2 separate regions of the Homo sapiens genome follow, and region 1 is linked to region 2. A link means that fine-mapping ties the variant in region 2 to the expression of a gene that starts in the linked region. Tissue or cell type: whole blood. Region 2 holds a variant in brackets; the other region holds the start of a gene. All regions are shown on one strand. Distances are from middle to middle.

The links. PIP is the estimated chance that this variant, and not a neighbour inherited with it, causes the effect.
Region 1: HAUS4 starts here. The variant in region 2 is fine-mapped to the expression of HAUS4 in whole blood (INTERVAL, PIP above 0.99). The same link has a PIP of 0.9 or more in monocytes.

What each region holds. Positions count from the first base shown.
Region 1 is chr14:22,954,733-22,960,625 of GRCh38, reverse strand. HAUS4 (HAUS augmin like complex subunit 4) reads left to right here and starts at 3,536. Exons shown (of 10, transcript NM_001166269.2): 1 at 3,536-3,710; 2 at 5,450-5,526. The coding sequence starts at 5,472. MIR4707 (microRNA 4707) reads left to right here and starts at 3,597; the gene lies at 3,597-3,676. RefSeq lists a silencer at 2,014-2,374 and enhancers at 2,174-2,752, 2,753-3,332, 3,715-3,844.
Region 2 is chr14:22,999,579-23,007,784 of GRCh38, reverse strand. The region is part of intron 1 of C14orf93 (chromosome 14 open reading frame 93); the gene reads left to right. LOC124903286 (a long non-coding RNA gene) reads right to left here and starts at 5,359. Exons shown (of 2, transcript XR_007064075.1): 1 at 4,402-5,359; 2 at 1-1,217. RefSeq lists a silencer at 565-614 and an enhancer at 775-1,144. The variant G/A (reference allele first, on the strand shown) is at 3,746.

The sequences.
Region 1 (5,893 bases), 46 kb after region 2:
GAGTCTCTCTCTGTCGCCCAGGCTGGAGTGCAGTGGTGCAATCTCCGCTCACTGCAAGCTCCGCCTCCTGGGTTGACGCCATTCTCCTGGCTTAGCCTCCTGAGTAGCTGGGATTACAGGCACCCGCCACCACGCCCAGCTGATTTTTTGTATTTTTAGTAGAGACGGGGTTTCACCGTGTTAGCCAAGATGGTCTTGATTTCCTGACCTCGTGATCTGCCTGCCTCGGCCTCCCAAAGTGCTGGGATTACAGGCTTGAGCCACCGCACCCGGCCTTTGCTGCATTTTTAACTGCCAGGATGGACTATAGGCTTAACTTTCCAGTCTTACGTAGAGCTGGCCTATAAAATCCTTCACTTCGGTTGGTCCTGTCTCCTCTTGGACCTAGAATGCAGTTTATACTCCCCTTGTCTCTGCTTCCATTTGCTGGGATGTTTCCTTCATTCTAAATGATCCAAATTTTCTCTATCCTTTCAGGCCCAATGAAAGTAAGATTTATTTCATCTATTCTATCCTATCTATTTCTGCAGAAAGAATTCTGTACCTTCTTCATGTTTCTCTAGTATTTATAATCTAAACTGCTCTTTTGACACCAGTTTGCTGCCTTGTATTATTTGCTTTTCATGTGCATACGTCTTATCTTTTAGATTATGAACATCTTTGGGGCAAGGACTGGGCCATATTTAGCTTTGTGTCTCTCCCAAGGCACTTAATAGGTGCATAATAAGTGTCAATTTAAAACACCTCACTTTTAGTCTTTCCAATGCACTTTCTCAGCCATTATCTCATTTGATCATTACATCGACACTATGAGATTGGAGGAGCTAGAAATAAGTTATTTCCTCCTTTTGACAGATAAGGACCCTGAAGCCCAAGGTCACACAACTTGTAGAGACAGAGATGGAACAGATAATTGCACATGAAGGTCTGATCCAATTCAAGGCTTCTTTGCATCACTATCCCCTCTGTCCTCCTACCTGAAGACAGCTTGCTCCATCCTTCACCCCCTCATTCCCCAAAGTACTTTAGCCAAAGCTTCGTAGTACCATATTAGAGAACTTGACAAATCTGAGAGACAAAATTTCAGTAGATTTCCGATCAGCTCTGAGTCACCAAAGCATACTTGCTATTTTGTTCCAAGTGCCGTTTGCTATGGACATTATGCCTGATATTTAACTTTGCTGTGCTTCAGAGCTGAGGAAGCATAAATGATTTTTAAAAGCTTCAGAAAATGACAGCAGTTCAATATTAAGCATGAAAGGTGGCAGCTGATGAGCTGACCAAGAATATAAAATTTCTTCACTGGACCACACCATTCCTCTATGCATATTAATAGAATTCTGTAGCTGGTACTGAAGGAAAAGGCGAAACTCCCCATCTCTCAGCACACCTAACGGAGATTCCTTTCCTATCACTCCAGGCTATCACCTTATCTAATGTAAAAGATGTGATATACTTGGCACAGTTTACTTAGTATTGCATATTTTCTTTTTGTATTTTTTTTTTGTAGAGATGGGGATCGTCTCGCCATGTGGCCCAGGCTGGTCTCGAACTCCTGGGCTCAAGTGATCCTCCTGCCTCGGCCTCCCAAAGTGCTGGGTCAGGCATGAGCCACTGCACCCCGCCTAAACATTTTCTTTATTTTTAATTTTTATTTATTTTTAATTTTTTTCGAGACCGAGTCTCACTCTGTTGCCCAGGCTGGAGTGCAGTGGCACGATCTCAGGTCACTGCAACCTCCGCCTCCTGGGTTCAAGCGATTCTCCTGCCTCAGCCTCTGGAGCTAATTTTTTGTATTTTTAGTAGAGACGGGGGTCTCACCAGGTTGGCCAGCCTGGTCTCAAACTCCTGACTTCACGTGATCCGCCCGCCTCAGCCTCCCAAAGTGCTGGGATTACAGGCGTGAGCCACCATGCCCAGCTCTTTATTTTTTTAAATTTATATTTTTGAAATAATTCACCGAAGGTGTGGGTGGGAGTGAGGGTTGGGTTTAAGGTTAAGACAGGTGGGCCGGGCGCGGTGGCTCATGCCTGTAATCCCAGCACTTTGGGAGGCCGAGGCGGGCGGATCACGAGGTCAGGAGACTGAGACCATCCTGGCCAACGTGGTGAAACCCCGTCTCTACTAAAAATACAAAAAAAATTACCTGGGCGTGGTGGCGCCCGCCTGTAGTCCCAGCTACTCAGGAGGCTGAGGCAGGAGAATCGCTTGAACCCGGGAGGTGAAGGTTGCAGAGATCGCGCCACTGCACTCCAGCCTGGCAACAGAGCAAGACTCCGTCTGGAAAAAAAAAAAAAAAAAGATTAAGACAGGTGAAAGATATTTGGCCGGGCAGATTGCTTGAGGTCAGGAGTGCGAGACCATCCTGGCCAATATTGTGAAACTCTGTCTCTACTAAAAATATAAAAATTAGCCAGGCGTGGTGGCTCGTGCGGGTAATCCCAGCTACTCAGGAGGCTAGGGCAGGAGAATCGCTTGAACCTGGGAGGTGGAGGTTGCGGTGAGCCGAGATCGTGCCACTGCGCTCCAGCCTGGGCAACAAGTGCGAAACTCCGTACCCCCAAGAAAACAAACAAACAAACAAACAAAACAGGCGAATGAGGAATGCGCGCTAATAGGGAGTCTGTGGTGGGAATTCGAGAGGAAGGTGACCCTGAGGAAGCACTGTATGGTGCCCGGCATGGGCTGGGCTGGGCTGGGCTGGGCTGGGCGGCAGCGCCTCAGAGCCAGGCCTTAGTGAGGAGACTCGCAGGACGCGGCTTGGGTGGCAGGTCTGGGAAGGTTCCTTCCGAGAGCTATTGGGACAGGTTTAGACCCCCCAAATGGCGACCTCGAACTTAACCCTTTGTGCCTCAGTTCTCCCCCTCTGTAAAATGAGTATAATGGTGACTTTCTCACAGGACGCTTTAAGAACTAAACGAGGCCTGGCCGAGGGCGGTAGCTCACGCCTGTAATCCCAGCACTTTGGGAGGCCGAGGCGGGTGGATCACGAGGTCAGGAGATCCAGATCATCCTGGCTAACACGGTGAAACCCCGTCTCTACTAAAAATACAACAATTAGCCGGGCGTGGTGGCGGGCACCTGTAATCCCAGCTACTCGTGAGGCTGAGGCAGAGAATTGCTTGAACCCGGGAGGCGGAGCTTGCAGCGAGCCGATATTGCGCCACTGCACCCCAGCCTGGGCGACAGAGCGAGACTCCGTCTCAAAAAAAAAACGAGGCAAGGCAAGCAAAATGCTTGGCGTAGTGCCTGACTCATCGTAGGCCCTCAATAAATGTTAGCAATTACCACCATTTTCTCAGCATCTGCCCTTCACTGGGGAGGCACTAATGAGAAGGGGCAAAAAAGCCTTTCCGAGACCATCCTGTTTCCCAGTCCGGGTTCCACCACCCGAGCATGCGAACCCAGGGCGTTGGGAACCCAGCGCGCACCCGTCGAGGGGCGGGGCCTGCCGTTCCCGCCTCGAGTGTGGCCCCGCCTCCACCTCCTTCGTCGCGGCCTCTAGTGCACTTTCGGCTCCTTCCCCTTCCCGGGCCTTTCAGCTTGGTCTTTCCGGGCCTCGCTTCCCCCAGCCCCTGCGCCCGGCCCGAACGAGAGGTTCCGGAGCCCCGGCGCGGGCGGGTTCTGGGGTGTAGACGCTGCTGGCCAGCCCGCCCCAGCCGAGGTTCTCGGCACCGCCTTGAGAGCTTCAGCTGCCCCAGGGTGTGCAGGTTTGCTTTAGAGGGTCGGCGGGCGGAGCTTCGGGGAAGAGGAGCTCTGGGAGAGTCATTCCGGCCAGTGGCCGGAGACCGTCGTCGCTCTTGGGAATCCTTGGCCGCCCAGACAGAAGGGAAGTAGGCGCCGGAGAGCCCGTTCTGCATTTTGATTCATCTCGGGCCCTGTAAGGGTCATATCTTGTGAAAATAACCTGTAAAATCAATTTAACGTTCAGTGCAGCGTGTAAAGACAGCTCTAAGAATTTAAAAGACGCCTGAGTCAGAACATTTAAATGCTTGGGTCCCTGTAGCAGCGTTTTAACACGTCTGAGTGCAGAGGGTGGAGAATCGAGCCTGATTGCCGTTCACGCCCTGTAACCTTTAAGAAGGGTAAAGAAAGGCACCCTAAAAAACGCAAGGGGACACTTACCCTAGGGGGGGACGAACAGCTAGCTTTTTGGAATTTGGGTTGGTCTTCATTTCCAAGTGCGAAATTTGCCTGCAAAACTTTTTATTTGCAGTCATAGATCAACGATAAACAGAATTGTTAAAACACTGAACTTAACTAAGTAGTGGCTTTTGTTGACAAGTCGATTGTGTTATTAATTCTTAATGTCTCATCCAAGGCAGGAATCGTTATCTCAGTTTTGCAGGTGGGAAAAGTTTGGCACAGAAAAAAGCATTTTCCTTAAGTTCTCAGAAGCAACGGCCGGCCGAGCTGCAAATTAAGTCCCAGCATTCTGCCTCCTCAGCTGCGTCCCCCTCTAGACCATGTTAGAAAACAAATGAGTAGTTACTTTGATGTTACTCATAAAACGATCGAGTAAACCAAATGTTCTATAAACATGAAGCGTTAAATCATAATAACCTTCAATGCCTGTTCAGCTTTGGGAGGCTCAGTTGCCCTTTGGAGTTTGATACCTTGCAGAGAGGAGGGGCAGAGCAAAAACATGAAAAGTAATGTCAAGGGAAAATTTTTGTCTCCTGAGGTCAAACTGTGCCCATCTTTACTGCCCCTGTGTTGGTGTCATTCCTTTCAGCGCACTCCATGTTCTGGCAAAACACCCACAGCTCACGTTCTCGTTGTAGCCACATTACACCTTTGCATTACTCTTTTGCCACTGACCTCACTGTCAGTCTTCTTGTCACGCTGTTTCCTCCAGGTGCTCTTTTCTTAGGCTGTTATGTGAAAACCAGTTGTTCAAGTGTGGAATGATTTGTCATTCCTGAAGGATGATTCTAGAGTTAATGATAAAAAAAAAAAAAACTACCAACAGATCTTAGACAAAAAAAGAAGCACAAAAAAACTATTATGGAATTTGATAGCTGAGTTATTTGGGGGGAAAAAGTAGACTTTGATTTTTTTCCCTTTTCCCCCAGTTCACTCATAACTGGGAAGCTGCAGCTCAGTTTTAACTTTGGCATAATGGTGGTGGTGGTGGAGAATCCTCTTGTTTAGACTCAGTGAATTGGAAAGTTCTCTTTTTAGGATGCTCCTTTTGGACAGCTTGGAGCAAGTGGAAACACATGTGTGCTTAGAATGTGACATGTTTTGGCACTTGTAAATCTGTTTGTCCATAAAGCTTGTGTAAGAGCTTGGGACCCAGGATGTGTGGTATAGGCCCTCTGTAAAAGTCATCCTTGAGGTTCCTTTCCAGCTTGTGGACAGCAGAAATTTGAACATAAGGTAGTGTCCTTGGAGCAGCCAGCTGTTTATTCATCTTTTTGTTTTCTTTCACTTCTTGGTTCCACAGATTAGAATCCCAAGAAAATCAAATGGCATCCGGGGATTTCTGCTCACCTGGAGAAGGGATGGAAATACTTCAACAAGGTAAGAGTAGCCACTTGCAAAAGGTTTGATGATTTATCCAGAGAGGTCTTATCCAGGTTCTTGCCTTTTCTAGTAAAAAGCATTTATTGGCTCACACCTGTAATCCCAGCACTTTGGGAGGCTGAGGTGGGTGGATCACGAGGTCAGGAGATCGAGACCATCCTGGCTAACACGGTGAAACCCTGTCTCTACTAAAAATACGAAAAATTAGCTGGGCGTGGTGGTGGGTACCTGTAGTCCCAGCTACTCCAGAGGCTGAGGCAGGAGAATGGTGTGAACCTGGGAGGCGGAGCTTGCAGTGAGCTGAGATCGTGCCACTGTACTCCAGCCTGGGCAACAGAGCAAGACTCCAAAAAAAAAAAAAAAA
Region 2 (8,206 bases):
TTTTAGCGTCTCAAAAAATAGGGAGAGCTCTCCCTGAACAGTGCAGAGCCCGTATCCCTGATTTCCTAGGCTATTTGATTTCTACATCCAGGAACGTAGGGTCATATCCACTGTTCTTGCTTTTTCTTCCTAAGAAAGGAGAGAATTCCTCGCACATATATATCGTTGGCTTGGCCTTCCAAAGCAAAGCAAAACTAAACTCTGTTGATTTTGCCTGGGAATCCTCGGGGCCCCTAGTATTGGAAACTTCTTTGAACTGTGAGGAGCTGCTAATTTGCAGGTGACATGTGAAAGAAATGTAACCGAGGCCAGCAGTAACTAAAAGTCGGCCACCACCCAACGTGTGACGCCGATTTGTGGCCACTGTGCTTATAATCGTGTACACACAGGTTTGTGAGCAGCAGAGAACAAAAGCAAGTAAACAAAAACAAGCTAAAGATGGCGTCTGACGGCCTTGAAAAAGCCTCACAGTCTTGTCCCTCCCTGAGGAGGCCCCTCCCCTACCTGACTTTTTGAGTGACTGTTGTTTGCAGCCAATAGTGTCCGTGACCCTGCTCCCCAGCCATCGTCTAACCGCCAATCACCGGGAGCCAGAAGGCAAACGGGGCGGTGTCTCCCCGCGTGCGCGCGGTAGCCGGGTACACGGGCAGGCGCCGCGGATAGTTCTGTCTCCCGCGCGCCCGCCTCCGCCTCTGCCTAGCTGAGTCAGCCCGTGCGGTAGCGCCAGGCACACGCGGTAGAACATCTGTAGGGCTGCAAAGCTGCACCTCCGCGTCAGTTCTCACGGCGAGCGCCGCCTTCAGCCCAAGTTCTCAAAGCTCTCGGGGCTACGTAGTCTACCCTCCCCGGTGACCCGGCGAGATCCCTAGCCGCTCCTCCGGCCGCTCTGCTCTCCGCATCCCTCGCGGGAATGACCCCCTTTACCCGGGACTCCCAGAGCGCACTGTATGGTAGGGCACAGTGGCGAGTCACCCTGTCCCCTGAGGCCTCTTGAGCAGTCGCCGATCTCTGCTTCCCGCGTCGCTGCGATCGCCTTTCCCGTAGCTGAATCACACTGACCCATCGGAAACGGTTCTGCCCTCCCTGGGGTCCACCTTGTCATCCTTGACTAATATTTAATCAACTAACATTTACCAAGTTCTCGCTGGCACGAGTTCTAGGAGCTACTTTTTCATTTTTCAGTTTCTCCATAAATGCAGTGGGTCCTTTAGGCAAACCTGAAATCGGAAATATTAATCTTACCAATGTAATCTTAGCAAATGTAAATAAAAAGGACTGTGCTATACTGGGCTAAAAATTCTCATCCTGCTATAGAAATATACGTGGAATTTTCAGATTACGTGGAATCCTTTAAAGACCGCATTCGGCCTTCTGGGTCTACAGCTCTCTTTTTTACCCCTAAAAATAAGGTCTTGGATTTTTTGCAGACCATTAGTCGAGTCACTCTTTTAAAATGTGGGAAAATAGTATTTTGTGGTATTTACTTAGCTGCTCTTGTGTGATAAGGAGCTCATTTCTGATAAAAATAGGTTTTGAGAGAACCTTTTGACAGGTGAGCCATTTTGCACCTTGAAGTGGAGGAGTAGGACTGACCAACACAGCAGGAGCTTTAAGTGGCCGTTTTCCTTATTTATTTCTTAAAATGAAGATTATGATATGAATTGCCATGCTTTCAGTAATCACATTTAAGGAAGTCTATTGCTAGCATGACCCTGAATGAGTCAAGCACCCATTATAAAAACATATATCATCTGAGTGATACCATATCATACACATCTATTAAATAGTGAGAAAACTTTTATTTTTCATAGTTTGGAGGTGAACTCAGTCATGCAGAAAATTCAAACTCAGAATGGGGAGAAAGCAAGCAAGGGAACTGCCAAGAGTATGATATATTTAGTCCTAACAAAAATGTGACTTGGGAGGAAAGGGATAGTTAAAATTATGGACAGTCTTACCCTGAACTGTCTGTCTAAAGGAGATGAATTGTCTTTCTTTTTTATCTAAATATTTATGAAAAATACCAAAAGTACTGGAAAGTACATTTTTAAGGCTCGTTTCACATTTATTTAAATTAGACCAATACTGAAATGAACCCCAAATGCTTATATTTTTTGCAAACCTAAGTGTGACATCTACTGTCATGTTGTGTTGGCAACGCATCCCAAGATTGAAGATCTTTTTCTCTTTTTTAGACCTAGTCAGTTGTTTTCAGGACTTTCTACTTAAACATGTTGCCATCATTTGAAATTTAAAATGTTAAATAAATACACTTCTTCTCTAATATACTGGTGTCTCCTCTTTTTATTTATTTATTTTTTAGAGACTGGGTCTTGCTATGCTGCCGAGGTTGGTCTCAAACTCCTGGGCTCAAGCGATCCTCCTCCTCCCAAAGTGCTGGGATTACAGGCATGAGCCACCATGCCCAGCCATGGTATTTCCTCTCAACTGCCTCATTTCTGTCATTCTGGTGGTGGTGGTGGTACCATCCTGTTACTCTTAGGCTTATAACCTTGCAGTTGTCTTTAACCAATTATCTCTATACCCCATCTCTATAACTCTGTCAATTCTCCTTATCTTACTATATAAGCGCCTTTGCTCTGACCTCTGACATGTACCCTGTTAAGTCCTGTAATTTTTTTTTTTTCCTCTAGAATGTCTTACTACCCTATCAGTTAATCCTATACATTGCTCAAGGCTCAACTGGAAGCTTTTCTTCTGTAAGAACTCTTTCTCAGTATGATTTCATTTTGTTAATGTTTCCATTATTTTGAACTAACGCCTCAGAAATTTTTCAGTCTATACCATATTATTAGGACTTGTGTGTATTTCACTTTGTTATTTATTTGTTTGTTTATTTATTTTTGAGACGGAGTTTCACTCTTGTTGCCCAGGCTGGAGTGCAGTGGTGCGATCTTGGCTCATTGCAACCTCCACCTCCCGGGTTCAAGTGATTCTCCTGCCTCAGCCTCCCGAGTAGCTGGGATTACAGGCATGTGCCACCACACCCAGCTAATTTTGTATTTTTAGTAGAGACAGGGTTTCTCCATGTTGGTCAGGCTGGTCTCGAACTCCTGACCTCAGGTGATCTACCCGCCTCAGCCTCCCAAAGTGCTGAGATTATAGGTTTGAGCCACTGCACCTGGCCTCAATTTGTTTTTTAGATAGTCCATGTTTAGAACATCCCATATTCTTTAGACATTCCCATCTGAAATACACTTTAAGTGCCTTATAGGTAGAGACTTTGTCTTCCTTTCATTTGAGTAGTGTGCAATGCATTTTGGTGAGTCATCCTTTAACATGGACTTACATATAAAAAACTTTTGGGCCTGGGCACAGTGGCTCACACCTGTAATCTCAGCACTTTGGGAGGCCAAGGTGGGCGGATCACTTGAGGTCAGCATTCATTAGTCAGGTGTGGTGGTGCATACCTGTAATCCCAGCTCTTCGGGAGGCTGAGGCAGAAGAATCGCTTGAACCTGGGAGGCAGAAGTTGCAGTGAGCCGAAATCGTGCCACTGCACTCCAGCCTGGGCGACAGAGTGAGACTCTGTATCAAATATATATATATATATTTTGGCCGGGAACGATGGCTCACGCCTGTAATCTCAGCACTTTGGGAGGCTGAGGAGGGCGGATCACAAGGTCAGGAGTTCAAGAGCAGCCTGGCCAATATGGTGAAACCCTATCTCTACTACAAATACAAAAATTACCTGGGAGTGGTGGCACATGCCTGTAGTCCCAGC[G/A]ACTCTGGAGGCTAAGGCAGGAGAATTGCTTGAACCTGGGAGGTGGAGGTTGCAGTGAGCCAAGATCGTGCCTCCACACTCTAGCCTGGGCGACAGAGCGAGACTCTGTCTCAAAAAAAAAAAAAAAAAAAAAAAAAAAAATATATATATATATATATATATATATATATATATATATATATGAATATATTAGCCTAAAAATATCTCACCCCACTCACCAGCTCACCTTCTTTTTTTCTGAGCCGGAGTCTCGCCCTGTCTCCCAGGCTGGTGTGCAATGGTGTGATCTTGGCTCACTGCAACCTCTGCCTCCTGGGTTCAAGCCATCCTCCTGTCTCAGCCTCCTGAGTAGCTGGGATTACAGGCACGCGCCAGCATGCGCGGCTACTTTTTTTTGTTTTGTTTTTTGTATCTTTAGTAGAGACAGGGTTTCACCATGTTGGCCAGGCTGGTCTCGAACTGACCTCAGGTGACCCGCCCACCTCAGCCTCCCAAAGTGCTGGGATTATAGGCGTAAGCCACGTGCCTGGCCCAGCTCACCTTCTTTAATGGGGGTATATGCAGCTAATGAAATTAATGTTTTGTTTTGAGTCATTTATCCAGCACTTAAGTAGTTACCTGGTTAGTAAATATAATGTGAAATACTCGTTTATTACCTGCTGATCCCAATATCTTTCCATATCTTAGAGTTTAGGTGAGAGACTATAGCAAGAGGCTGGGAAATGAAGTCAGCAATAGTGTCCATGGAAACCAAAAAAGAATTCTTTGAATGCCCATTGTGCTAGACCACACTGTACCTAGTTTTTATAGGCAAATTAATTCAGGAAAACACCTATTTGTTGCCCTGAATGTGATGTTTTAAAATGGACATAGTATGGTAACATACAAAGTAGAAAAACAGAAGAGCAATTGAGGAACAAATTGAACTCACAATAGGAAAATACATTTAGCATTAAAAACTAGCATAAAATATTATCCTTAGTCTGAGACCAGGTCATGATAGCAAGTAAATTACAAATACTAAATTACCTTTCTAATTTGCGTCATAGAAGGTTTTGTATCTATAAATGCATCCTCATAGACTTGAGGAATGTGTTGTTTGTTAGAAATTCAATATTAAATTTGGGGGCAAATTTCCCCAAATTCTATTTCAAGCCATTGCATTTTATTCAAAATTAGGGAATCAGGAATCAAGGTGGTGGCTCGCACCTGTGATCCCAGCTACTCAGGAGGCTGAGGCAGGAGGATGGCTTGAGGCCAGGAGTTGAAGACCAACCTGGGCAACATAGCAAGACCCCGCCTCTTAAAAAAAAAAAGATTAAGGAATCAGGGTGGGTGTCCAGGTTGGGAACACAAAATGTTACAGGAATAACCATAATATCATCCAGCCGTTACTAGTGGAGCACTGACCATGTGCCAGCACTCTATAGGTGCCTTACATATATTATGTATAATCTTCACAAAAACCACTCAAAGTAGATAGTGATGAAGAAACTTGGTCTCAGAAAAGTGAAATAATTTACTAATGTTCACACAGCTCATAAATGGTGCAGCCAGAGGAGAACCTCATTTTTTTTTTTTTTTTTTTGAGATGGAGTCTCGTTCCATCACCCAGTCTGGAGTGCAGTGGCGTGATCTCGGCTCACTGCAACCTCTGACTCCTGGGTTCAAGCAATTCTTCTCCCTCAGCCTCCTGAGTAGCTGGGATTACAGACAAGTATCACCATGCCTGGCAATTTTTTTGTATTTTTAGTAGAGATAGGGTTTCACCATGTTGGCCAGGCTGGTCTAGAACTCCTAACGTCAAGTTATCCACCCACCTCAGCCTCCGAAAGTATTGGGATTACAGGTGTGAGCTACCACGCCCGGCCACCCTTTTTTTTTTTTTTTTGAGACGGAATCTCGCTCTGTCGCCCAGGCTGGAGTGCAGTGGTGCGATCTCGGCTCACTGCAAGCTCCGCCTCCCGGGTTCACGCCATTCTCCTGCCTCAGCCTCCAGAGTAGCTGGGACTACAGTCGCCCGCCACCACGCCCGGCTAATTTGTTTGTATTTTTAGTAGAGACGGGGTTTCACTGTGTTAGCCAGGATGGTCTCCATCTCCTGACCTCGTGATTCGCCGGCCTCGGCCTCCCAAAGTGCTGGGATTACAGGCGTGAGCCACCGCCCAGCCCTTTTTTTTTTTTTTTTTTTTTTTTTTTTAACCTGCAGTACAGTGCTGTTTTGGAAAGATGACCAAGGAAGGACGACCAAGGAAAGACTATTTAAAGAAGAAGGAGCTGGGCGCAGTGGCTCACACCTGTAATCCCAACACTTTGGGAAGCTGAGGCGGGTGGATCACCTGAGGTCAGGAGTTCAAGACCAGCCTGGCCAACAGCGCGAAACCCTGTCTCTACTAAAAATATAAAAATTAGCCATATGTGGTGGCACGTGTCTGTGATCCCAGCTACTTGGGAGGCTGAGGCAGGAGAATCACTTGAACCTGGGAGGCAGAGCTTGCAGTGAGCCGAGATCTTGCCATTGCACTCTGGCCTGGGCAACAGAGCGAGACTCCGTCTCAAAAAAATGATAAATAAAAATAAAAGAGAGGGGAAGAGCTTGAGGCAGGCTCAACACTGGTAGGGGTAAAAGCCTCTTGCAAGAAAGAGTAAGTGCGTGAGGCAAGAGAGTTTGGTACCAGAAAGGAGTTAGACAACTCAGCCAGTGTCCCAGCCGGATGCATCTTAATTACTGATTTTACAAATACTGAACCCAGCTGGCAAGCATTTGAATACTATTATTTATTATCACCAAAACATTCTTTTGCCCACAGCATCTATGTTTAAGAGCAAACTCCCTGCATGATGTAGGTTAAATAAAGAATTAAAAAGAAAAAGCTCTGCAGGAGCAGTGTAGGCCCTTATTTAGGAAGGAAAAGAATACATAAGTGATTCATCTATAAATTGACATAGAAGTGCTTAGTGCTTTCCTTTAACCTTTAGTTTTAATTTGGTTTAACCTTTAGTTTCAGGTTTAGCTGTGCCTCCCAGTGACTATAATGACAAGGAAGCTGTAAATGTATTTGAGTTAAGCTTTTGCGAGAAGTAAGTATCTGGCACAGAAAAAGCCATTTCTTCGATATAAAGGGTGGAAAGAGCAAATTAAAGACTATTCTTTAATAACCACATGTAATTAAAATGCATTGTCAGATTTATGTTTTAGTACCTCAGAGGCATTGATATTGCCTCTTTCTGAAATGAGATTGCCTATTCAAAAAGAAAAAAGAAAACCCTCAATATATAGAAAATTCTCTTAACCTCCTACTCTTTTTTTTTTTTTTTTTTTTTTGAGGTGGAGTCTCGCCCTGTTGCCAGGCTGGAGTGCAGTGGCACCATCTCGGCTCACTGCAACCTTTGCCTCCCGGGTTCAAGTGATTCTCCTGCCTCAACCTCCCGAGTAGCTGGGGTTACAGATGCCCGCCACTACGCCCGGTTAATTTTTGTATTTTTAGTAGAGACAGGGTTTCACCATGTTAGTCAGGCTGGTCTCAAACTCCTGACCTCAGGTGATCGGCCCACCTCAGCCTTCCACAGTGCTGGGATTACAAGCGTGAGCCACCATGCCCGGCTCCTCCTCTCCTTTTAATTGTGATGTTTTAATTTACAGGGTAAGAGAGAAATGCATCTCTCAGAGAAATTGTAAACATACTTAAGGTTTTGACATGGCACATCAGAAGGATTTTTTTTCTATCATCAAGTATTATTTAGAAAATTACAATATTTATTAAGTTCCCGGGAGTGTTCTCAGTGGTACAAATCAACTTCTTTACCCCTTTTTTTCTCTCCTGGAGTAGTTTAGTTGCTTAACTACAGTAATTTAAAAGAAAGGCAGTTTGGTTTATTACTGACATTCTGGTTTCTCCTTTAATGGGGGCTGGTCATGCAGGCAAAGTGACAGCATAGCTGTTCAAACATTCCTGTTGAATTTTGGATCCACCCTTAAGGAGCTTGAGAAATGAAGATAAGGGGCCCCACGGGTGATTTCTCTGGGCTCCTGGCTGGAAGATTCAGGACAGCTAGTTTCCATTACAGAGGCTCATGGCCCAGGTACACGACTATGTGGGAAAGGGGGCTGTGCAGCCCTGGGTTACCCCAGCTCAATTCCCTGATCTTTTCATTTCATTTCCCTGCCCTCATCCCCAAAGCATTAATGATATAATATAACAGTGAGAAGTTGGTGACATGCTGAGGGCTGCAGTGATGGATGTATTCCTTATTTAGGAGTGTTACTCTGAATGCATTTGTATGAAAATTACAGAGAGGGTAGAATCATGATTGTCATGATTGTTAATGTCAACAAAAAGTGGTATCAGTTAAAAAAAAATACAACACTACATTGAAAGTAGCAATAACTGGATTCTGCTGTTATTCCTCTGACCTTGAAAAAGACATATAACTTCTCCACATGTCTCTTCTCTGGACCTG